Linked DNA regions of Homo sapiens. The protein of the gene in region 1 interacts with the protein of each later gene in a pairwise test. Each region holds a gene or a part of one and is shown in the gene's direction. Other genes may lie near its edges. The genes, in order: ADIPOQ, SIGLEC12, MRM1, SLC35H1, FKBP7, MUC1 and KEL.

Region 1 (3,127 bases):
TTCTTGGCAAGTCGACTCTTGGAGCTTTCCCTGTGCTTGGTCCTGTGCTCAGACATGGGAAAATTAGAGGAGTGTCATCTGTGCAATCACTGAATTCATAATCTTGGTGAGGAAAGGAGACTACACACAGGGAATAATGCTAAGTATTACAGATTTCAGGGCAGAAAGAGATCAAGGTGGGCTGCAATATTCAGAAAAGTCTTCCTGGAAAAGTTGAATACTTAGAAAGCAGCTCCTAGAAGTAGACTCTGCTGAGATGGACGGAGTCCTTTGTAGGTCCCAACTGGGTGTGTGTGTGGGGTCTGTCTCTCCATGGCTGACAGTGCACATGTGGATTCCAGGGCTCAGGATGCTGTTGCTGGGAGCTGTTCTACTGCTATTAGCTCTGCCCGGTCATGACCAGGAAACCACGACTCAAGGGCCCGGAGTCCTGCTTCCCCTGCCCAAGGGGGCCTGCACAGGTTGGATGGCGGGCATCCCAGGGCATCCGGGCCATAATGGGGCCCCAGGCCGTGATGGCAGAGATGGCACCCCTGGTGAGAAGGGTGAGAAAGGAGATCCAGGTAAGAATGTTTCTGGCCTCTTTCATCACAGACCTCCTACACTGATATAAACTATATGAAGGCATTCATTATTAACTAAGGCCTAGACACAGGGAGAAAGCAAAGCTTTTTTATGTTAACCATAAGCAACCTGAAGTGATTTGGGGTTGGTCTTCCAAGGATGAGTGTAGATGGTGCCTCTATAACCAAGACTTTGGCTTTGCTGCATCTGCAGCTCCTTTTCCATCCCCTTTCCCATCTTCACCCTCATCCCTATTCCCAGTACATTCATATTCTGATTCCTCTTTCTGTCTGCTTAACTTCCATTTCACCCAGTGGCATTCAACCACATTTACTGCACACCCCCTGAAAGGCTCAGTCCTGCCTTTGGGGAACTCTTGATCTAGGTAAGATGTCTAATGTGCAAGGCTCTGTTGGTGGTTACTACAAGAAAGTCTACTCTAAAAATGTCAAACTGAATGTGAACAAGTATTCAAAGTATGGAGCATAGAGAAAATATACTCACCGTGGACCTGATGAAGAATGAAGGCTTCAAGGAGGAGGCAGAGCTTCAGCTAGGCCTTGAATGATGGGTAGGCAGAATAGAGGAGGAGAGACATCCTAGATGGAGGGGGTAGAATTGCAAAACCAGGGTTGATGGTGCCAGCACATAAAGGGCTGGCAGGGTGGAGGGTCTATGATAGAGACCTATAGGAGATAAAGATAGAGTTGAAATTATGGGAGCCTCCATGTCTGTGGGAGATATAGAAGGAGGAGGTAACACCTCTCTCCTTTTGGGAGCTCTTATTGGTTTCTTGATCTATAAGTCAAGAAGGTTGTGAGTGGGAGCCACAGGGATGGTAATTTAGGCTGTAACCAACCTAGGCAGGAGTTCTGTTCTTTGTAGTCACTGAGGTCTTCTCATTCCTTAGGTCTTATTGGTCCTAAGGGAGACATCGGTGAAACCGGAGTACCCGGGGCTGAAGGTCCCCGAGGCTTTCCGGGAATCCAAGGCAGGAAAGGAGAACCTGGAGAAGGTGCCTATGTATACCGCTCAGCATTCAGTGTGGGATTGGAGACTTACGTTACTATCCCCAACATGCCCATTCGCTTTACCAAGATCTTCTACAATCAGCAAAACCACTATGATGGCTCCACTGGTAAATTCCACTGCAACATTCCTGGGCTGTACTACTTTGCCTACCACATCACAGTCTATATGAAGGATGTGAAGGTCAGCCTCTTCAAGAAGGACAAGGCTATGCTCTTCACCTATGATCAGTACCAGGAAAATAATGTGGACCAGGCCTCCGGCTCTGTGCTCCTGCATCTGGAGGTGGGCGACCAAGTCTGGCTCCAGGTGTATGGGGAAGGAGAGCGTAATGGACTCTATGCTGATAATGACAATGACTCCACCTTCACAGGCTTTCTTCTCTACCATGACACCAACTGATCACCACTAACTCAGAGCCTCCTCCAGGCCAAACAGCCCCAAAGTCAATTAAAGGCTTTCAGTACGGTTAGGAAGTTGATTATTATTTAGTTGGAGGCCTTTAGATATTATTCATTCATTTACTCATTCATTTATTCATTCATTCATCGAGTAACTTTAAAAAAATCATATGCTATGTTCCCAGTCCTGGGGAGCTTCACAAACATGACCAGATAACTGACTAGAAAGAAGTAGTTGACAGTGCTATTTTGTGCCCACTGTCTCTCCTGATGCTCATATCAATCCTATAAGGCACAGGGAACAAGCATTCTCCTGTTTTTACAGATTGTATCCTGAGGCTGAGAGAGTTAAGTGAATGTCTAAGGTCACACAGTATTAAGTGACAGTGCTAGAAATCAAACCCAGAGCTGTGGACTTTGTTCACTAGACTGTGCCCTTTTATAGAGGTACATGTTCTCTTTGGAGTGTTGGTAGGTGTCTGTTTCCCACCTCACCTGAGAGCCATTGAATTTGCCTTCCTCATGAATTAAAACCTCCCCCAAGCAGAGCTTCCTCAGAGAAAGTGGTTCTATGATGACGTCCTGTCTTGGAAGGACTACTACTCAATGGCCCCTGCACTACTCTACTTCCTCTTACCTATGTCCCTTCTCATGCCTTTCCCTCCAACGGGGAAAGCCAACTCCATCTCTAAGTGCCGAACTCATCCCTGTTCCTCAAGGCCACCTGGCCAGGAGCTTCTCTGATGTGATATCCACTTTTTTTTTTTTTGAGATGGAGTCTCACTCTGTCACCCAGGCTGGAGTACAGTGACACGACCTCGGCTCACTGCAGCCTCCTTCTCCTGGGTCCAAGCAATTATTGTGCCTCAGCCTCCCGAGTAGCTGAGACTTCAGGTGCATTCCACCACACATGGCTAATTTTTGTATTTTTAGTAGAAATGGGGTTTCGTCATGTTGGCCAGGCTGGTCTCGAACTCCTGGCCTAGGTGATCCACCCGCCTCGACCTCCCAAAGTGCTGGGATTACAGGCATGAGCCACCATGCCCAGTCGATATCTCACTTTTTATTTTGCCATGGATGAGAGTCCTGGGTGTGAGGAACACCTCCCACCAGGCTAGAGGCAACTGCCCAGG
Region 2 (4,265 bases), on another chromosome or scaffold:
GATGGGAAGATCCATGGAGCTGAGTAAAATAAAACAGATTGTGGTTTTTATGTAAAAATAGTCTTTAGAAAAACCTATGCAAAGCCATAGTATTGAAGGCAGTGCACTCAGATGATAAAACTACATAGAAAAGCAAGGAGACCATTATCATTAAAGTGAGGCTGGGGCATCTTCAGGAGGAACTGCATGTGGCCTATAGGAAGGGGAAACACAGGGCTGAATAAATGAATGCAATTTCTTTCTTCATCTCATGGGAGAAATTTGGCAATTATCTTGTGATGTTCTATTTCTTGAACAGTGATAATTTGGTGAAAATCACTGAGTCATTTTTTTAGGTGGCACTTTTATTTACTTGTATTACATTTCCCCAAAAATCATTGTTTCAAGAAAAGCTGACATGGGTCTAAGGAGGGCGAATCTTGCAGGATTTTCCCCACCTTCCTCCCAGTACATAGCATACAGTTTCAAAAACTCTTCTGCTGAATTCAGGTGCATTTCTTCTCCCATGAAATCCTGTCCATCATTGAGCGTGGACACGCCAGGGCTGGTGTCCTCGCTCCACGTCTCCTGTTCACCTGAAACCCTGGGAGCAGAGCCTGCAGGAACAAAGGGCCAGCAGACCCCTCATGCTCTGGAGTAAGGAGGACTTGTGAGAGAGCAGTGGTGAAGGATCCCATCCTGAACCCAGAGAGCCATGGCCGAGAGAGAAACGCCTGCCCCTTTAGAAATCTGTCCCTTCCCATCCAACATTCCTCCCTTCCAGACCTCACTGTACAACAGTCACAGCCTTAGCTTCTCAGGCCTCCTGTGAACTGGGCTCTTCTCTGTGTCTTTGGTGTGTATCAACACACGGAATCCTCACCTCCACGACCCCGTGTCTCTCTGCTCAGTCCTCCCGAGACTGATTCCCCAACATAGGAGAGAGCGACCACACCCTGCCTGGTACCCCCACTGAAGCTCCTGCCATGGAGAGCTCAGATATCAGGAGCCTCAGTGTCTCCCCACTACACAGTGACTCTTTGGGGACAGTGTCTAGCTCTGCTGTGTTGAACTCCACCTCACGGCCGCTGAGGGAGGAAGGAGAGGTTGCCTGCTCATCCCACCTGCACCCCCATCTCTTATATCCTAGTGTCACCTCTGACCTACAGAGAGACATCCACAGCCTGTACTTCATAGGTCTGGCCACATGGGACTCATTTTCACCTTATGGAAAATATCACCCAAGGGGAAGGGCACTGAGAGGGAGGCAGTGGGCGGGGTGGGCCCTGCATGGGGTTGGAATCTGGGTGAGTCTTTCATCCTCTCTGGCCTCAGGGTCCCCAGGAGTGGACGGGGTAGTGGACGGTGGATCTTCCAGGGGTGACCCGGCCCTGACAGTGTCTGTGTGTGAAGTTCCTCCTGTGAGGTCACCGTTCAGAACCCACCCCCAACTTCCTGTGCGGCTTCCTCGAAATCTTGAGTTCTCAGTTCCTGAGAGAAGAACCCTGAGGAACAGACTTACCTCAGCAACCCTGGCACCTCCAACCCGACACATGCTACTGCTGCTGCTACTGCTGCCACCCCTGCTCTGTGGGAGAGTGGGGGCTAAGGAACAGAAGGATTACCTGCTGACAATGCAGAAGTCCGTGACGGTGCAGGAGGGCCTGTGTGTCTCTGTGCTTTGCTCCTTCTCCTACCCCCAAAATGGCTGGACTGCCTCCGATCCAGTTCATGGCTACTGGTTCCGGGCAGGGGACCATGTAAGCCGGAACATTCCAGTGGCCACAAACAACCCAGCTCGAGCAGTGCAGGAGGAGACTCGGGACCGATTCCACCTCCTTGGGGACCCACAGAACAAGGATTGTACCCTGAGCATCAGAGACACCAGAGAGAGTGATGCAGGGACATACGTCTTTTGTGTAGAGAGAGGAAATATGAAATGGAATTATAAATATGACCAGCTCTCTGTGAATGTGACAGGTAAGGCACGGGCTCCAAGAGAGGCCAAAGGCAAATGTGATGAGGGCTTTAGGGCACGGCTGAGACGGGACACATGTCCTGGGAGGGGGCCGGGGGTGATGGACTCAGGGGAGGAGCTGGACCAGAGCCTGAGCTTCCCCAGGACCGCACCTTGGATGCCCCTCCTGATCCTGCAAGCCCCTCCCCTCACCAGCCCTGACCCACAGGCCTGACATCCTCATCCTGCCTCTGACGCTGGCACTGTGGCATGTGGGGCCTTATGACTCCTTGTTTTGGGGCCTGTCCTAGGCATGGCCGGGGTTTAGCACCATCCCAGGCCTCTCCCCACCAGATGCCAGAAGCACCCACCCCACCCATGCAGCGAGACAATTATCTCCACACATTGTCAAACGTCCTGGGGGGTTAAGTCCTCCCCAGTTGAGAGCCTTAGGTCTACACAACCCCGTGACTCTCTCAGGCCAGGCCAGGGAGGAAGCACTTCCTGGCGCAAACCAAGGGCAGCAGAGGCACCTGAGCCTGGACAGGGAGACTCAGCACACGGCCCCTCCATCTCTCATGCCCCGAGGTCCTCGGAGATCCACATTTAGATGCTCAAAAGACAGGAGGGACCTCCACGATGGTCCAGAGGCCGGGAGGGCAGGACCTACGTGTCTGGTGCAGGCCCTGGTGCTTCAGGGAAGCCCGGAGGTAGGAGGCGGGACACGGTCTCTTCTCCTCCCTGGGTGGGTCTCTAGGGTCTCTGAGCTTTAGGGTTTCCTTCACTCTGTGCAGAGGGAATGAGTTCCTATAGCATGTGGGTTTGCAGTTTCTCTTCCATGCAGGGCTGAGGTCTCCAGCTCCTCTCCAGCCCCCTGTGGGTCCCACAGCCCTGCCCCTCCTCTCCCTCCCCCTTCTCTGCTCACACAGGGAGCCCAGGAAGCCTCTGCCTCAGAGATGCTGCTGCCCCTGCTATGGGCAAATGAAGAGAGGGACAGTGGGGGCTGGGCTGACCCTCGTTTCTCCACAGCGTCCCAGGACCTACTGTCAAGATACAGGCTGGAGGTGCCAGAGTCGGTGACTGTGCAGGAGGGTCTGTGTGTCTCTGTGCCCTGCAGTGTCCTTTACCCCCATTACAACTGGACTGCCTCTAGCCCTGTTTATGGATCCTGGTTCAAGGAAGGGGCCGATATACCATGGGATATTCCAGTGGCCACAAACACCCCAAGTGGAAAAGTGCAAGAGGATACCCACGGTCGATTCCTCCTCCTTGGGGACCCACAGACCAACAACTGCTCCCTGAGCATCAGAGATGCCAGGAAGGGGGATTCAGGGAAGTACTACTTCCAGGTGGAGAGAGGAAGCAGGAAATGGAACTACATATATGACAAGCTCTCTGTGCATGTGACAGGTAAATCTCTGGCTCTAGGACCAGCCAGAGGGGAAGGCCCGAGGGCCGCAGGGTAGGGCTGAGGTGGGACCCCCATCCTGGGAGGGAGTTGGAGGTGAAGCATATCTGGCTCAGGGGAGGAGTAAGACCAGAGCCTGAGCCTCCTCAGCACCACACTTCAGACCCCAACACCCTCATTTTGCCTGTCTCCCTTTCATCACCAGCCCTGACTCACATGCCCACCTTCTCCATCCCGGGGACCCTGGAGTCTGGCCACCCCAGGAACCTGACCTGCTCTGTGCCCTGGGCCTGTGAACAGGGGACGCCCCCCACGATCACCTGGATGGGGGCCTCCGTGTCCTCCCTGGACCCCACTATCACTCGCTCCTCGATGCTCAGCCTCATCCCACAGCCCCAGGACCATGGCACCAGCCTCACCTGTCAGGTGACCTTGCCTGGGGCCGGCGTGACCATGACCAGGGCTGTCCGACTCAACATATCCTGTGAGTTCTGGGCCAGGACGTCTGGGTCTTTGATCGGGATTCCTTGAGGCCAGTTGGATGTGGGACCCAGACTCAAGGATCTGGGTCCTGGAATCTTGGCTGGGAGTTGGGGGTCAGGAGGATGCTGGCTCCACCTTCCCCATTTATGGGGCTCCTGGGGAGACAGGGTCAGTGTCCCCAGTCCTCAAAGTGATGGGAACTCCGTGTCTTTCTGTTCCAGATCCTCCTCAGAACTTGACCATGACTGTCTTCCAAGGAGATGGCACAGGTAAGATGGAGTCCTCTCCCTGGGGCTGGAGGAGCAGAGCCTTCAACTCAGGGGAGAGCCAGGACTCACCCTGGTGACCTGAGACCCTTTTGTGGGTGAGCCCCGGCCCCCCCCTCCCTCAGCCTCAGCCTTTTGGCCACCTGAGCACCTTCTCATCACCCCTTCACTC
Region 3 (2,441 bases), on another chromosome or scaffold:
CCTGCCTCAGCCTCCTGAGTAGCTGGGATTACAGGCATGCACCACCATGCCCGGCTAATTTTGTATTTTTAGTAGAGACGGGGTTTCTCCATGTTGTTCAGACTGGTCTCGAACTCCCAACCTCAGGTGATCCCCCTGCCTTGGCCTCCCAAAGTGCTGGGGATTACAGGCGTGAGCCACCGTGCCTGGGCCAGGCTAGTTTTGAACTCCTGACCTCAGGTAATCTGCCTGCTTCAGCCTCCCAAAGTGCTGGAATTACAGGCTTGAGCCACTGCATACAGCCTCTGATGAAGATTTGATGAATTAGAATAGGAGAGGCAGGCATGGTGGCTGACGCTTGTAATCCTAGCACTCTGGGAGGCCAAGGTGGGAGGATCGCTTGAAGCCAGGAGTTCCAGACCAACCAGGGCAACATGGCAAAACCTCATCTCAAAAAAAAAAATGCAAAAACTAGCCGGGTGGGGTGGCGAGTGCCTGTAGTCCCAGCTACTTGGGAGGCTGAGGTGGGAGGATCACCAGAACCCAGGCGGTTGAGGCTGCGGTGAGCTGTGATCGTGCCACTGCACTCCAGCCTGAGCGAGAGTAAGACCCTATCTCAAAATTAAAATAAAAAAAGAATTAGAACATATCTTCTTCCCCCTTTCAGACCAAAGCCCAGCAGGGCTGGCTCGTGGCCGGCACGGTGGGCTGCCCAAGCACAGAGGATCCCCAGTCCTCCGAGATCCCCATCATGAGTTGCTTGGAGTTCCTCTGGGAACGGCCTACTCTCCTTGTGCTGGGTAGGTGGATGTCCCTGCGTTTGTGCCCAGATTACATTTCCCGAGCAACTGGGTGTCCAGCTGGGCAACCCTAACCCTCAGCCCCACGCCCTGCAGGGAATGAGGGCTCAGGTCTATCCCAGGAGGTGCAGGCCTCCTGCCAGCTTCTCCTCACCATCCTGCCCCGGCGCCAGCTGCCTCCTGGACTTGAGTCCTTGAACGTCTCTGTGGCTGCAGGTGAGTCTACTCCCCTTTCCCTTTCCTCTATCCCTCTAATCACGCAGGTGGGATTTGATGCCCTCTAATCCCATTTGCTGGCTGTTTGTGTGCCTCAGTTGCTTTATGTACAAAATGGGGAAATTACATCCCGTTGATGAGATGAGGGGCTGCCTGAATGTCTAGGTCTCTAAACATCATCCTTCTCCTCCGTCCTCTCTTCCCTTGTCCTTGTGTCTGTGCAGGAATTCTTCTTCACTCCATTTGCAGCCAGAGGAAGGGTTTCCCCACAGAGGGGGAGAGAAGGCAGCTTCTCCAAGACCCCCAAGAACCCTCAGCCAGGTCTGAAGGGCTCAGCATGGCTCAGCACCCAGGGCTGTCTTCAGGCCCAGAGAAAGAGAGGCAAAATGAGGGCTGACGTGGACTGTCCACAGTGTTCATGTGCTGGAGTCAGGGACGGCCGCACCTGCCTCCGCCGGCTCCAGTGTGCGGGGAGCCTCTGCCTGAGTGTGCACCAGGCCCATGTTTATTGACCACAGTCTGGGGGGGGGGGAAGGGGACTGCGGTGGACACCAGAGGAAGCTGTTTCCTGTTGTGATGTTGGACCTGTAGTAGGACATGGTGATTTGTTAATTTCCATGGGAAGCCATGATGGCCTAGCATGGAGGGAATCTGTTCCCAGGCCCTGCCTGGAAGTTGAGGGAAAGTTTAGACATCTGCAGAGAGGCAGGCAGCCCAGCCCAGGGGACCCGTTCCTCTTGAACCAGTCATTGCCTGTGGCAAATGTGTGTATGAGAATGTGGGGGGTGGAGGGCGGGGCCCTGATGTGGAGTAGACAGTGCGCACCTCAGGCCCACACACGGCCCCGCCCTGGGGCCTTGAGCGCAGGCCTCATCTTTCTGTGCCGCGGGACTCCGCACCTACCTCACAGGGTTGTTGTGAGGCTCAAATAAAACATCACTCAGCACGTGGGAGATTCTGGCCAATTCCTCCGTTAGGTGGCAGCCTCGCTCTTCGGTCCAGTCTTCAGGCAGCTTCCACAGCCTCCTTGCGGGGAGACTCCTGGCTGCAGCCCCATGAGAGGCGACGGGAAATTAGCAAACACCTCCCACCCCACGGGGGCCCCCCACGGGTGACTGAGTCAGTTCCCTTCAAGGGGAGGAACTGGGAGCAGGCTTGCCGTTGATTGTACAACCGAGACAGATTTGGCACTCCTCCCCTCGGGTCCCAGGAAAGCAGCAGGAGCCAGCAGTGTGAGGAGCATAGAAGTGTTTCTGTCCTGGTGGCACATTGGAACCACCTGGCATGCTTTAAAAAACCCAACACTGACACCAGAGAGTCTGACATGATGGGTGTGGCGCCACCTGGCATCCGGCTTTCGAAAGCGCCACCATTGGTCTAATGTGCAGCCAAGGCTGAGAATCACCACTAGGGCAGGTGGACTCAAATTCCACACCCTTGACATTT
Region 4 (3,500 bases), on another chromosome or scaffold:
GATACCGTAACTAAGGGCCCTACACACATAGCAAGGTCCTCATGAACCACCGAATGAGCCCCACTCCAGCAGAGGGGCGAAGAGGAAGAGGGAGCCGGTGGGGGGCAGGCTGTCTAAACCAAGCCGGGGTGTCTGCTTTGGGCTCCATACAGAGCTTCCATTTCCCCCTCTTCATGACGATGCTGCACCTGGCCGTGATCTTCCTCTTCTCCGCCCTGTCCAGGGCGCTGGTTCAGTGCTCCAGCCACAGGGCCCGTGTGGTGCTGAGCTGGGCCGACTACCTCAGAAGAGTGGCTCCCACAGGTAGGTGGGGGACCTCAGTGAGGGCAGAGCAGGAAGAGGGGCTGGGGAACCATAGGATGAGAACAAGAGAGACACCCGCATGTCTGGAAGCCAAGTCCCTCCCCTCTTCCTGCACTGTTCCTCCTCTGCCCTCTTGACCTGGCCTCCCACCACCCACGCTGCTGCCTCTTGTGCACTGCGTGCCTTCCCACTGCCCCACCACACACCCACAAAACCCCCCCTGCACCTGCGGCCCCGCAGCTCCCTCTCCTGCCAGCAGACACCGAGCCTGGAGTGCAGCCCTCAGGCCTGGAGATAAGTGGTGAGCAGGCAGGGTCCCTGCCCTCGCAGGGCTGTGACACGGACATGGAGGGCACTACGGAGCCCAGGGAGGGGACCAACCCAAGGCCGGGGCCCATGGCTGGTAGAGGAAGATTTCCTAGGCCAGGTGCCAAGTAGGCAGAGCCCTGAAGGATGCGTGGGACTGGTTGGCCCTGGGAGGAGGGGCCCTCGTGGCCCGAGGGAGATTTAGTGCCAGCTGTGGGGTCTGGAAGGGAACTCAAAGTGTTTCAGGATACTGAGAACCCGGTGCTGGCCAGAGGAAGTGGGAAAAATGAGAACTGAGAGGGTGGGCAGGGGTCATGTCCTGGAGGCCGGATTCCCCGTGGAGGAGTTTGTGTTCCATCCTGAGGGAAAAGGGTTTCCAGTAAGGGATCAACCAGATCAGGTTAATACCTCCGCTCAGGGGGCTCGCCGGAGTGTTTGTGGAAACCATACCGGCCCAGCCAGTTGGAATGGGCCCCAGCCCTAATGCTAGAGCAGCCCCCGACCTTTGGGGGCCAGATATTAACCCTTTAGTTGCTGGTGGAAAAGAAGGCCCAAGGGCCCCACAGGAGGCACCGGGATGGTTCAGAAGTGGGGGACACTCAGGTGCCTCAGGGTACCAGCCCACCCCAGCAGAGTGTGGACCTCCCAAGCTGTCCTGTGGGTGCCTGTGTCTTCACAGCTCTGGCGACGGCGCTTGACGTGGGCTTGTCCAACTGGAGCTTCCTGTATGTCACCGTCTCGCTGTGAGTACTGGCCATGCCCTGCTGCCTCCCTTCAGGCTGAAGCTGTCTGTCTGTCCAGCGGGGTGTCTGCACACCCGGCTGCTAGGCCAGCCACTCCACCACTCTGGGACCAGCCCTTGCTCTCTCAGCCTCTCCCTGGCACCCAGCAGCTCTCCGGGAAGTCGCCAGCCTCTTCCGTAAGCCCAGCGCAGAGGAGATGCTGTGCCCACCTGCCAGGCAGCGTGGGGAAGCCAGGGAGCTCTCCCAGAACCCCATCATCAGAGCAGGGGAAGGCAGGCTGCAAGGCCACAGACAGGTGGCCACTGGTGGGTGGTACACGCAGCCGCAGCAGAGCCCTATGTGGCCTGGGGGCTACACAAGAGTTTCTTCTTCCCTCTGATGTTTTGCTTCAGAGAGCACTGTTCCTGCCTTCTTGTCCTCCTACTTCTCATCCTTCCTTCCCGCTCCTGGGCTCTGCCGAGGGTTAGGTAAAGAACAGGACTCAGGGAGCTCAACGTCAGACCTGTAACCTCTTCTCTCTGGTGATAACCAGAGGCCTCTTAGTCAGAGATTCCTTCTGATTAAAGGTCGCTTATCACTCAGATGACAGCCCAGCTCTGTTTGGTCATTTCGCTCAGTGATTTGTGCTCCTGCTCCTTTCTCGGTGATGGGTCTGAGCCCTGAGCTCCAGCAGTGCATTGTGGGTAATTTTGCTTCCAGGTACACAATGACCAAATCCTCAGCTGTCCTCTTCATCTTGATCTTCTCTCTGATCTTCAAGCTGGAGGAGCTGGTGAGGCCCCAGCGTCTCTTGTGTCCTTCCTGCCCCCACAGATGCTAAGAATAAAGTGGGAGTCTGAGCAGTGGCTTGTCCTGCTGTGTGACAGAGGAGACAAGCCCAGTCCAGGTGGCAGTAGATCCCTTTCTGAGAAGGGACCTAGACATGGGCAATACTCAGAATATTTAGAAACCAGTGTGGCAGGGTAATGACCAAAGGTGAAAGCACTGCAGGATGAGGGTCCCAGCAGAGCTGGGTCTAGGAAGCACCCTGCTGTGGGAGGCAGTAGCCCTGTGTGTTAGGCCCAGGGAGGAGGTGGGACCACTTGGGGGCCTAGGACAGCCGTCAGTGTGGCAGAGCAAGCAGGGCTGTTGGCATACCAGCTGACCGTCAGCCCTACATGCTGACATTGGTGGGCAAGGACTGTCCAGGACCCCCTGGGATGGAGCTGAAGGGTGGAAGGATTTCTTGCCCCAGGGGCAGCCAAGATGGCTGCTGACCCCAGGCTCCAAATGTGATGAACCCTTGACCCTCAAGACCCCCGAGTTAGCTGCCACTGCTCCCCATCCTACCAGCGCGCGGCACTGGTCCTGGTGGTCCTCCTCATCGCCGGGGGTCTCTTCATGTTCACCTACAAGTCCACACAGTTCAACGTGGAGGGCTTCGCCTTGGTGCTGGGGGCCTCGTTCATCGGTGGCATTCGCTGGACCCTCACCCAGATGCTCCTGCAGAAGGCTGAACTCGGTGAGCACGTGCCACTCATCCTCCAGAGAGAGGAACCCCGGCACAGGCAGGGCGGAGGCAGGGCAGGGCCGGACCAGACCTGATGGTGCCTGTCCCCCGCCCTGCAGGCCTCCAGAATCCCATCGACACCATGTTCCACCTGCAGCCACTCATGTTCCTGGGGCTCTTCCCTCTCTTTGCTGTATTTGAAGGTACGTTGGGCCTTCCCTCTCAAGGGCACCTCAGTGCAGCAGACCACAGATCCTCGCCCTGAGCCCAACACAGTGGTAGCTGCAGAGATTATTGAGATCAAAGATGCAGTCCCTCCCCTGGAAGCGCATGGTTTGGGGTCCAGCATGATAAACGCTACAGAGAAAGCACATATAAAATTCAGGGAACAGTAACAGTAAGTGTGCACAGAGCCCTGAAAGTGCACCAGGGCTGTTCTGATCTTTTTAAACATAGGAACTCATTTCATCCTTCCAAAAACCTGGTGTGGCAGTACTATTATTATCCCCCATTTTGCAGGTAGAACAAAATGAGGCCCAGAGAAGTAAAGATAACTTGCCCAAGGTCCCATAGCTCGTAAATGAGCCAGAATTTGAAGCCAGCAGCCTGGCTCCAAGTGGTCCAGCCCTACTCTTAACCACCCTATCTTGCCTCTAAGG
Region 5 (3,500 bases), on another chromosome or scaffold:
AACCAGCATTATTGCTGGGAATGGAAATCATTCAACTTCTCTATCAACTGTTATCAAAAGTGAAAATGCAGGCCCGGGTGTGGTGGCTCATGCCTGTAATTCCAGCACTTTGGGAGGCTGAAGTGGGCAGATCACTTCAGGTCAGGAGTTCGAGACCAGTCTGGCCAATATGGTGAAACCCCGTCTCCACTAAAAATACAAAAATTAGCTGGGTGTGGTAGAGTGTGCCTGTAATCCCAGCTACTTGGGAGGCTGAGGCAGGAGAATCGCTCGAACCTGGGAGGCAGAGGTTGCAGTGAGCCAAGATTGCGCCACTGCACTCCAGCCTGGGCAACAGAGCGAGACTCCATCTCAAAAAAAAAAGTGAAAATGCACGTGCCTTCTTATCCAATAGTTCCATTTCCAGGAATGTGCACAAAGGTATATGTAAAAGAACATTCACTGCAGGCATTTTTGGGTGGGAGGGTGGCAAAAGGTTGGAAACCACCTGCCTATCCATCAATAGGAAATTAGTTAAATAAATTATAGTATATCTATACAATGAATTACTGTGTAACCAGTAAAAAGAATGAAGTAGAGCTATACTTATTAATATGTTAAAAATAAAGTGGAGGCCAGGCATGGTGGCTTCATGCCTATAATCCCAGCACTTTGAGAGGCTAAGGTGGGAGGATCACTTGAGCCCAGGAGTCTGAAAGCAGCCTGGGCAATGTAGGGAGACACAATCTCTACAGAAAATTAAAAAGTTAGCCAGGCGTGGCGGTATCCGCCTGTGGTCCCAACTACTCAGGGGGCTGAGATGGGAGGATCCCTGGAGCCTGGGAGGTCGAGGCTGCGGTGAGCTGTGATTGTGCCACTGCACTCCAATCTGGGCAACACAGCAAGACCCTGGCTCAAAAAAAAAAGTGGACAAGACTATATTCCACTTTTGGGATATATATTGAGCATCAGTGCCAGGCTTTGTTCTAGGCACTGGGCATAAAGCAGTGACCAAAGTAGACACTACTCCCAATCCTCTATGAGCTTTCATTTCAGAGGAGGAGTTTCACATATGCATGTATCTACACAGAATACATCTGGAAGAATATGCAGTCATCTGATGACATTAAGTGTTCCTGGGAAGGAGGCCTCAGGGTCAAGGATGAGAAGATTTCTTTTCACTCTAACATTTTGTACCATTTGAAAGTTTTATAAGGCATGTATTAATTTTTCCAAAATTAAAATTTTAAATTACAAAAATTGCATGTAGCAGAACAGAGAAGAAAATTTTTAAAGCAGGCAGGAGGATGGGCAGCCTGATAGGCTGTACCTTGCATCCTTAGTTAGGTTCTTGCTCCGTGTTGCTGCTTGAAGGCTATACAGAAAGAATCTTTGCCTCCTTACCCTATTTAGAGCCACTGCTGACTCCACCGGTTTGAAATAGTAAAGATTAATTTTCCACAATGAGATATTGGCATTGCTCCCAAATATTTCATGGAAGTGGCATGCCTTCTTTGAGGCAGTTGTCTTAGTCATTAAGAGTTCTTTCCAGCAAAATCGGGGCATCAGTGCCCCACACTGGATTGGCGGGTGGTGGGGGGGTGTCAGTGCTTTGAGTCAGACCCAGTCAGGCTTAAAACTCCTAAAGAGACAATTTCCAGATAACTTCAGCTTTATTTTTAATGCTTTTTGCCAATAATTTGATCCCATCAGAACAGCTCCCATGGTACCATAATTCATATATCCTGTTTTTATTTGTATAGGAACCTAGGAGAAAGAGAAGGAAAATTGAAAATAAATTAAGTCAAATGCAATACTTGTGCTAAAAATGTTGTCAAAAGTTGAGGCCACTTCTAGGCAAAATGTTGGAGGCAGAGTTTGCCTTTCAGTCTCTTTCTCATTTTCAAAGTTTTCCTTTCTGTCTTGCGTTGTGTCTTCAGATGCCTCCACATTCTGCCTACCACTAGAGCACCCACTCTCCTATCTGCCTAGAGCACACACATCTGTCATCATCAGGTGCTCATCCAGGGTTCACCGCCATCAGGCAAAGGACCACTTAGCTTATCTTTTTCATAAACTAATTTATGCTTAGATATGAATGACTACCCAGGCTGCCTAAGCTCTTAATAAATCAGAAACTTGCTGCAGAGATATAGAAGTTTGATGTGAAACAAGTTCATATTCAATTGGAGGTATCTCTAACAAACATTAAAGTGATTAATCTCACTAGTAATACCACCAGCACCCTCATTTTACAGAGTAAGAAACTGAGGCCCAAAAAAAGTGTTAATTGGACCATAGTTAATACTGACCTTGCCTGCGTTACATTAGGCATTGTAATCCAATACCTTGGATTACATTATTTTAAAAGTTGCAGTGTAGACCTTAAGTAACTGTTTAACAAACAACCTCTTGATTAAATAAGCATTTAAAAGTAAGTTGTTATTAAGACCTAACATTAGCTATAACTTTATTTTAGGTAGTACTTGAAGAAGTCTTTCTTCTGCAAAATATCCTTGTCTCATGTCACAGAACAACCCTGCATGTCTTGAAATGCATGTGACTTGTTAGTGCTTAAATAACAATACATGCGGTATGTATATATTCTTTACCTTAATTCCTACTTCTTTGATCTGCTTCTCTAAATATAAGTAATTCCGTAGCAAATGCATATTTTCCTCATTTTTATACTTTAGTTTTTTTTAAAAAAAAAAAAAAAACAAGAAAAAGAGGTAATTGGCAATATATCCTTTTTTTTTTTTTTTTTTTTGAGATGGAGTCTTGCTCTGTCACCCAGATTGGAGCGCAGTGGTGTGATTGATCTTGGCTCACTGCAGCCTCTGCCTCCCGGGTTCAAGCTATTCTCCTGCCTCAGCCTCCGAGGAGCTGGGATTACAGGCACACGCCACCATGCCTGGCTAATTTTTGTATTTTTAGTAGAGATGGGGTTTCGCCATGTTGGCCAGGCTGGTCTCGAACTCCTGGCCAGCCAGGCTGATCTCGCCCTCCTGGCCAGGCGCAGTGGTATAAGCCAAATAAGAATTGCTTGAACCTGGGAGGCAGAGGTTACAGTGAGCCGAGATCGCGCCATTGCACTCTAGCCTGGGTGACAGAGGAAGATTCTTGTCTAAAAAAAAAAAGTGGTATAAGCCACTGCGCCCGGCCAATATTTTCTATGTTTATAGCAAAATTGTTCAAAAACTGCATATGTACCTACAATATTTTTTCTTAAGAAATTCAAGTTTTGGGCTGGGCACAGTGGCGTATAGCTGTAATCCTAGCACTTTGGGAGGCCGAGGTGGGTGGCTCACCTGAGGCTAGGAGTTCAAGACCAGCCTGGCCAACATAGTGAAACCCCGTATCTACTAAAAATACAAAAAATAGCTGGGTGTGGTGGCTTGTGCCTGTAATCCCAGCTACTTGGGAGGCTGAAACACAAGAATCACTTGAACTCGGGAGGTGGAGGTTGCAGTGAGCCAAGATCGCGACACTGCACTACAGCCTGGGCAACAGAACAGATT
Region 6 (2,296 bases), on another chromosome or scaffold:
CGGCCCCGGACACAAGGCCCGCCCCGGGCTACACCGCGCCCGCAGCCCACGGTGTCACCTCGGCCCCGGACACCAGGCCGGCCCCGGGCTCCACCGCCCCCCAAGCCCACGGTGTCACCTCGGCCCCGGACACCAGGCCGGCCCCGGGCTCCACCGCCCCCCCAGCCCACGGTGTCACCTCGGCCCCGGACACCAGGCCGGCCCCGGGCTCCACCGCCCCCCCAGCCCACGGTGTCACCTCGGCCCCGGACACCAGGCCGGCCCCGGGCTCCACCGCCCCCCCAGCCCACGGTGTCACCTCGGCCCCGGAGAGCAGGCCGGCCCCGGGCTCCACCGCGAGAGCAGCCCACGGTGTCACCTCGGCCCCGGAGAGCAGGCCGGCCCCGGGCTCCACCGCCCCCCCAGCCCACGGTGTCACCTCGGCCCCGGACACCAGGCCGGCCCCGGGCTCCACCGCCCCCCCAGCCCACGGTGTCACCTCGGCCCCGGACACCAGGCCGGCCCCGGGCTCCACCGCCCCCCCAGCCCACGGTGTCACCTCGGCCCCGGACACCAGGCCGGCCCCGGGCTCCACCGCCCCCCCAGCCCACGGTGTCACCTCGGCCCCGGACACCAGGCCGGCCCCGGGCTCCACCGCCCCCCCAGCCCACGGTGTCACCTCGGCCCCGGACACCAGGCCGTCCCCGGGCTCCACCGCGCCCGCAGCCCACGGTGTATATTTAAAACAGAGAGCAGGCCGGCCCCGGGCTCCACCGCGCCCGCAGCCCAGCTCACAGTGTCACCTCGGCCCCGGACACCAGGCCGGCCTCGGGCTCCACCGACACTCCAGCACACGGTGTCACCTCGGCCCCGGACAACAGACCGGCTCCGGGCTCCACCGCCCCCCCAGCCCACGGTGTCACCTCGGCACCGGACACCAGGCCGGCCCCCGGGCTCCACCGCCCCCCCAGCCCACGGTGTCACCTCGGCCCCGGACACCAGGCCGGCCCCGGGCTCCACCGCCCCCCCAGTCCACGGTGTCACCTCGGCCCCGGACACCAGGCCGGCACCGGGCTCCACCGCCCCCCCAGCCCACGGTGTCACCTCGGCCCCGGACACCAGGCCGGCCCCGGGCTCCACCGCCCCCCCAGCCCACGGTGTCACCTCGGCCCCGGACACCAGGCCGGCCCCGGGCTCCACCGCACCCCCAGCCCACGGTGTCACCTCGGCCCCGGACACCAGGCGGGCCCCGGGCTCCACCCCGGCCCCGGGCTCCACCGCCCCCCCAGCCCACGGTGTCACCTCGGCCCCGGACACCAGGCCGGCCCCGGGCTCCACCGCCCCCCCAGCCCATGGTGTCACCTCGGCCCCGGACAACAGGCCCGCCTTGGGCTCCACCGCCCCTCCAGTCCACAATGTCACCTCGGCCTCAGGCTCTGCATCAGGCTCAGCTTCTACTCTGGTGCACAACGGCACCTCTGCCAGGGCTACCACAACCCCAGCCAGCAAGAGCACTCCATTCTCAATTCCCAGCCACCACTCTGATACTCCTACCACCCTTGCCAGCCATAGCACCAAGACTGATGCCAGTAGCACTCACCATAGCACGGTACCTCCTCTCACCTCCTCCAATCACAGCACTTCTCCCCAGTTGTCTACTGGGGTCTCTTTCTTTTTCCTGTCTTTTCACATTTCAAACCTCCAGTTTAATTCCTCTCTGGAAGATCCCAGCACCGACTACTACCAAGAGCTGCAGAGAGACATTTCTGAAATGGTGAGTATCGGCCTTTCCTTCCCCATGCTCCCCTGAAGCAGCCATCAGAACTGTCCACACCCTTTGCATCAAGCCTGAGTCCTTTCCCTCTCACCCCAGTTTTTGCAGATTTATAAACAAGGGGGTTTTCTGGGCCTCTCCAATATTAAGTTCAGGTACAGTTCTGGGTGTGGACCCAGTGTGGTGGTTGGAGGGTGGGTGGTGGTCATGACCGTAGGGAGGGACTGGTGCACTTAAGGTTGGGGGAAGAGTGCTGAGCCAGAGCTGGGACCCGTGGCTGAAGTGCCCATTTCCCTGTGACCAGGCCAGGATCTGTGGTGGTACAATTGACTCTGGCCTTCCGAGAAGGTACCATCAATGTCCACGACGTGGAGACACAGTTCAATCAGTATAAAACGGAAGCAGCCTCTCGATATAACCTGACGATCTCAGACGTCAGCGGTGAGGCTACTTCCCTGGCTGCAGCCCAGCACCATGCCGGGGCCCCTCTCCTTCCAGTGTCTGGGTCCCCGCTCTTTCCTTAGTGCTGGCAGCGGGAGGGGC
Region 7 (2,375 bases), on another chromosome or scaffold:
AGTCACACAGTTACCAAAAAGCAGAGACAGGGTTTGAACTCAGGCATTCTGATGCCAGAGCCCAGGCTCTCGATATTGCCTTTCATTTTCCTCCAGGAAAGGATTTACATGAGATGGCAGGTGGCTGGGGAAGCAGTGAGTACACACTCACGTTGTGAAGGCAGGGAGACTTGTGGGGGACTTGCTGGGAAGCTGAAGAGCTCAGGAGGATGAGGAGAGGGAGTGGACGGTTTAAAAAAGACAGTGTGAGAACAAGAGCCCTGAGCCAGAGGAGAAAATGACAGCCCTCTCCTCCCTCTGATTTCTGAGAGGTGTTCCTGCCCCCAGGAGTGAGGACACTGTCTTTCTCCTGTGTCAGGCTATTTCCCCATGGAAAGGAACTATATCTCCCTGATGGCCCTCACGGATGGCCAGGCCCCACCTTCCCTTTGTGGGCTTGGCACTGCCTTCCTTTCTCCACAGATCCTTTAGTTGCTTTAGTTGAGCTGCTCCTCTAGCAGCAGCTCCAGCCCAGGCAGCTCCTTGGGGCCAAGCCCTTTTCCAAGGGTCAGAAGCTGTGGGCAGGGCCAGGCTGAGGCCTCTCCTGATCCTGTCCCCCTGTCCCTGGACCTCACTCCCACAGGCCATGAAATTATTCACTGCGATCCGGGATGCCCTCATCACTCGCCTCAGAAACCTTCCCTGGATGAATGAGGAGACCCAGAACATGGCCCAGGACAAGGTCAGGCCAGGCGTCCTGGCTGGTGTGGGAGCCTGTGCAGGGAATGGAGTATTGGAACAAGCGAGATGGGGATTGGAAGCAAATGCCAAAGGCCCCCCCAGGCACATGCTAAGTAGGGAAGCCACTGGGCTGTATACTCACACTGGCAACAATGTGAGAGGCTGGGACAGGGCAACGAGTGGGAGAAATTTCCTCTGGTAGACTCGGAGAGTATTCCTAGCCTCTTCTGTGTCTCTCTCCAGGTTGCTCAACTGCAGGTGGAGATGGGGGCTTCAGAATGGGCCCTGAAGCCAGAGCTGGCCCGACAAGAATACAACGATGTGGGTCCCTGTGTTTTCCAGCTCCTTTTCAGTCCTTGACTTCTCGTCACTTCTCTGACCCTCCTAAGTCTTTGTTGGACAATCAGTTTTCCCTGGGTGACTTAGCTCTGTCCTTACTCTGGTGCTGGCTGGGGTTGATGGGGAAATATCCACACTGTACGTCTTGCTGGCAGAAGAACAGAATCTTTTCAGGTCCCAACGCATGTGCCAACACACATGCATGCATCCTGTGACTTGTCTGGGCGTGTTCATCTGTGTGCTGATATGTGTAAAGCCTGGGTGTGCTGTGTAGTGATGCCATTGGGCTGCTCTCTCCTAATCCCTGGATGCCTGCCTGTCAGGGCTTGCCTGTTTGGGGTCAAATGGTCCCATTGGTGTTTGTCAGCGTGCATCTATAGAAGTCTCTGTGTGCCCAAGTCACCTCCTGCCTCTTCCCCAGATACAGCTTGGATCGAGCTTCCTGCAGTCTGTCCTGAGCTGTGTCCGGTCCCTCCGAGCTAGAATTGTCCAGAGCTTCTTGCAGCCTCACCCCCAACACAGGTATGACAGCAGGGGAGACACAGGCACTCCATCCCAGAGAGACCCATCCATGATTCACAGGAAAGGAAGCCAGGGCTCAGGGCAGGCAGCATGAACAGTAATGGTAGTTGGGAGGGACTGTGTAGGTCTCAGGGTGGCAGGGCAATACGTGGTGGGGGCTGGAGTTCACATGTCCTCTTCCCACAGGTGGAAGGTGTCCCCTTGGGACGTCAATGCTTACTATTCGGTATCTGACCATGTGGTAGTCTTTCCAGCTGGACTCCTCCAACCCCCATTCTTCCACCCTGGCTATCCCAGGTATGGGTCACTCTGTAAGGGTAGGTAGGGAGTTTCCCAAGAGGGGCCGACAGGTGTTATGATGGATGGGACTTACGGTTGGAGAATTGGGGTCACAAATGCTGAGAGATTCTGGGGGTCAAATAAGCCCTTGTCTCCCTAGAGCCGTGAACTTTGGCGCTGCTGGCAGCATCATGGCCCACGAGCTGTTGCACATCTTCTACCAGCTCTGTGGGTAACAGGGGCCACTGGGAGGTGGGATAATAGGGAACCTAAGGGAAGACCACAAGGGAGGCCTGGAGGGGAAAGGGAGGTTATTTGAGGGTTTGAGGTGGGGCAGTCCTGGGAACTTTGCCATGCTCCTGGGAGCTGATTCAGTCTGTGGTACCACCCACATCCTCACCTAGGCAGCACCAACCCTATGTTCTCTTGCTGTATGTTCTCTTGTCCCATTTTCAACAGTACTGCCTGGGGGCTGCCTCGCCTGTGACAACCATGCCCTCCAGGAAGCTCACCTG

What was found.
Region 2: the proteins of ADIPOQ (region 1) and SIGLEC12 interact in binary tests that used the Homo sapiens proteins (3 or more experiments, as listed by UniProt).
Region 3: the proteins of ADIPOQ (region 1) and MRM1 interact in binary tests that used the Homo sapiens proteins (3 or more experiments, as listed by UniProt).
Region 4: the proteins of ADIPOQ (region 1) and SLC35H1 interact in binary tests that used the Homo sapiens proteins (3 or more experiments, as listed by UniProt).
Region 5: the proteins of ADIPOQ (region 1) and FKBP7 interact in binary tests that used the Homo sapiens proteins (3 or more experiments, as listed by UniProt).
Region 6: the proteins of ADIPOQ (region 1) and MUC1 interact in binary tests that used the Homo sapiens proteins (3 or more experiments, as listed by UniProt).
Region 7: the proteins of ADIPOQ (region 1) and KEL interact in binary tests that used the Homo sapiens proteins (3 or more experiments, as listed by UniProt).

Annotation. Positions count from the first base shown.
Region 1 is NC_000003.12:186,852,710-186,855,836, forward strand, and holds part of ADIPOQ (adiponectin precursor), read left to right. Parts: exon of another isoform or gene 1-341; 5' UTR 342-349; coding exon 350-563; intron 564-1,068; exon of another isoform or gene 1,069-1,163; intron 1,164-1,423; exon of another isoform or gene 1,424-1,474; coding exon 1,475-1,995; 3' UTR 1,996-3,127. UniProt on the Homo sapiens protein: Important adipokine involved in the control of fat metabolism and insulin sensitivity, with direct anti-diabetic, anti-atherogenic and anti-inflammatory activities.
Region 2 is NC_000019.10:51,499,001-51,503,265, reverse strand, and holds the start of SIGLEC12 (sialic acid-binding Ig-like lectin 12 isoform a precursor), read left to right. Parts: upstream 1-1,465; 5' UTR 1,466-1,532; coding exon 1,533-1,959; intron 1,960-2,872; exon of another isoform or gene 2,873-2,892; coding exon of another isoform or gene 2,893-2,965; coding exon 2,966-3,346; intron 3,347-3,549; coding exon 3,550-3,828; intron 3,829-4,048; coding exon 4,049-4,096; intron 4,097-4,265. UniProt on the Homo sapiens protein: Putative adhesion molecule that mediates sialic-acid dependent binding to cells. The sialic acid recognition site may be masked by cis interactions with sialic acids on the same cell surface.
Region 3 is NC_000017.11:36,607,024-36,609,464, forward strand, and holds the end of MRM1 (rRNA methyltransferase 1, mitochondrial precursor), read left to right. Parts: intron 1-646; coding exon 647-779; intron 780-875; coding exon 876-995; intron 996-1,219; coding exon 1,220-1,392; 3' UTR 1,393-1,941; downstream 1,942-2,441. UniProt on the Homo sapiens protein: S-adenosyl-L-methionine-dependent 2'-O-ribose methyltransferase that catalyzes the formation of 2'-O-methylguanosine at position 1145 (Gm1145) in the 16S mitochondrial large subunit ribosomal RNA (mtLSU rRNA), a universally conserved modification in the peptidyl transferase domain of the mtLSU rRNA.
Region 4 is NC_000020.11:46,354,426-46,357,925, reverse strand, and holds part of SLC35H1 (solute carrier family 35 member C2), read left to right. Parts: intron 1-152; coding exon 153-303; intron 304-1,288; coding exon 1,289-1,352; intron 1,353-2,051; coding exon 2,052-2,124; intron 2,125-2,684; coding exon 2,685-2,853; intron 2,854-2,960; coding exon 2,961-3,044; intron 3,045-3,500.
Region 5 is NC_000002.12:178,472,101-178,475,600, reverse strand, and holds part of FKBP7 (peptidyl-prolyl cis-trans isomerase FKBP7 isoform a precursor), read left to right. Parts: intron 1-1,633; exon of another isoform or gene 1,634-1,746; intron 1,747-2,458; exon of another isoform or gene 2,459-2,572; intron 2,573-3,500. UniProt on the Homo sapiens protein: PPIases accelerate the folding of proteins during protein synthesis.
Region 6 is NC_000001.11:155,187,620-155,189,915, reverse strand, and holds part of MUC1 (mucin-1 isoform 10 precursor), read left to right. Parts: coding exon of another isoform or gene 1-676; intron 677-981; coding exon of another isoform or gene 982-1,299; coding exon 1,300-1,753; intron 1,754-1,852; coding exon 1,853-1,908; intron 1,909-2,057; coding exon 2,058-2,194; intron 2,195-2,296. UniProt on the Homo sapiens protein: The alpha subunit has cell adhesive properties. Can act both as an adhesion and an anti-adhesion protein. May provide a protective layer on epithelial cells against bacterial and enzyme attack.
Region 7 is NC_000007.14:142,942,989-142,945,363, reverse strand, and holds part of KEL (kell blood group glycoprotein), read left to right. Parts: intron 1-622; coding exon 623-721; intron 722-963; coding exon 964-1,041; intron 1,042-1,480; coding exon 1,481-1,581; intron 1,582-1,767; coding exon 1,768-1,878; intron 1,879-2,020; coding exon 2,021-2,088; intron 2,089-2,319; coding exon 2,320-2,375. UniProt on the Homo sapiens protein: Zinc endopeptidase with endothelin-3-converting enzyme activity. Cleaves EDN1, EDN2 and EDN3, with a marked preference for EDN3.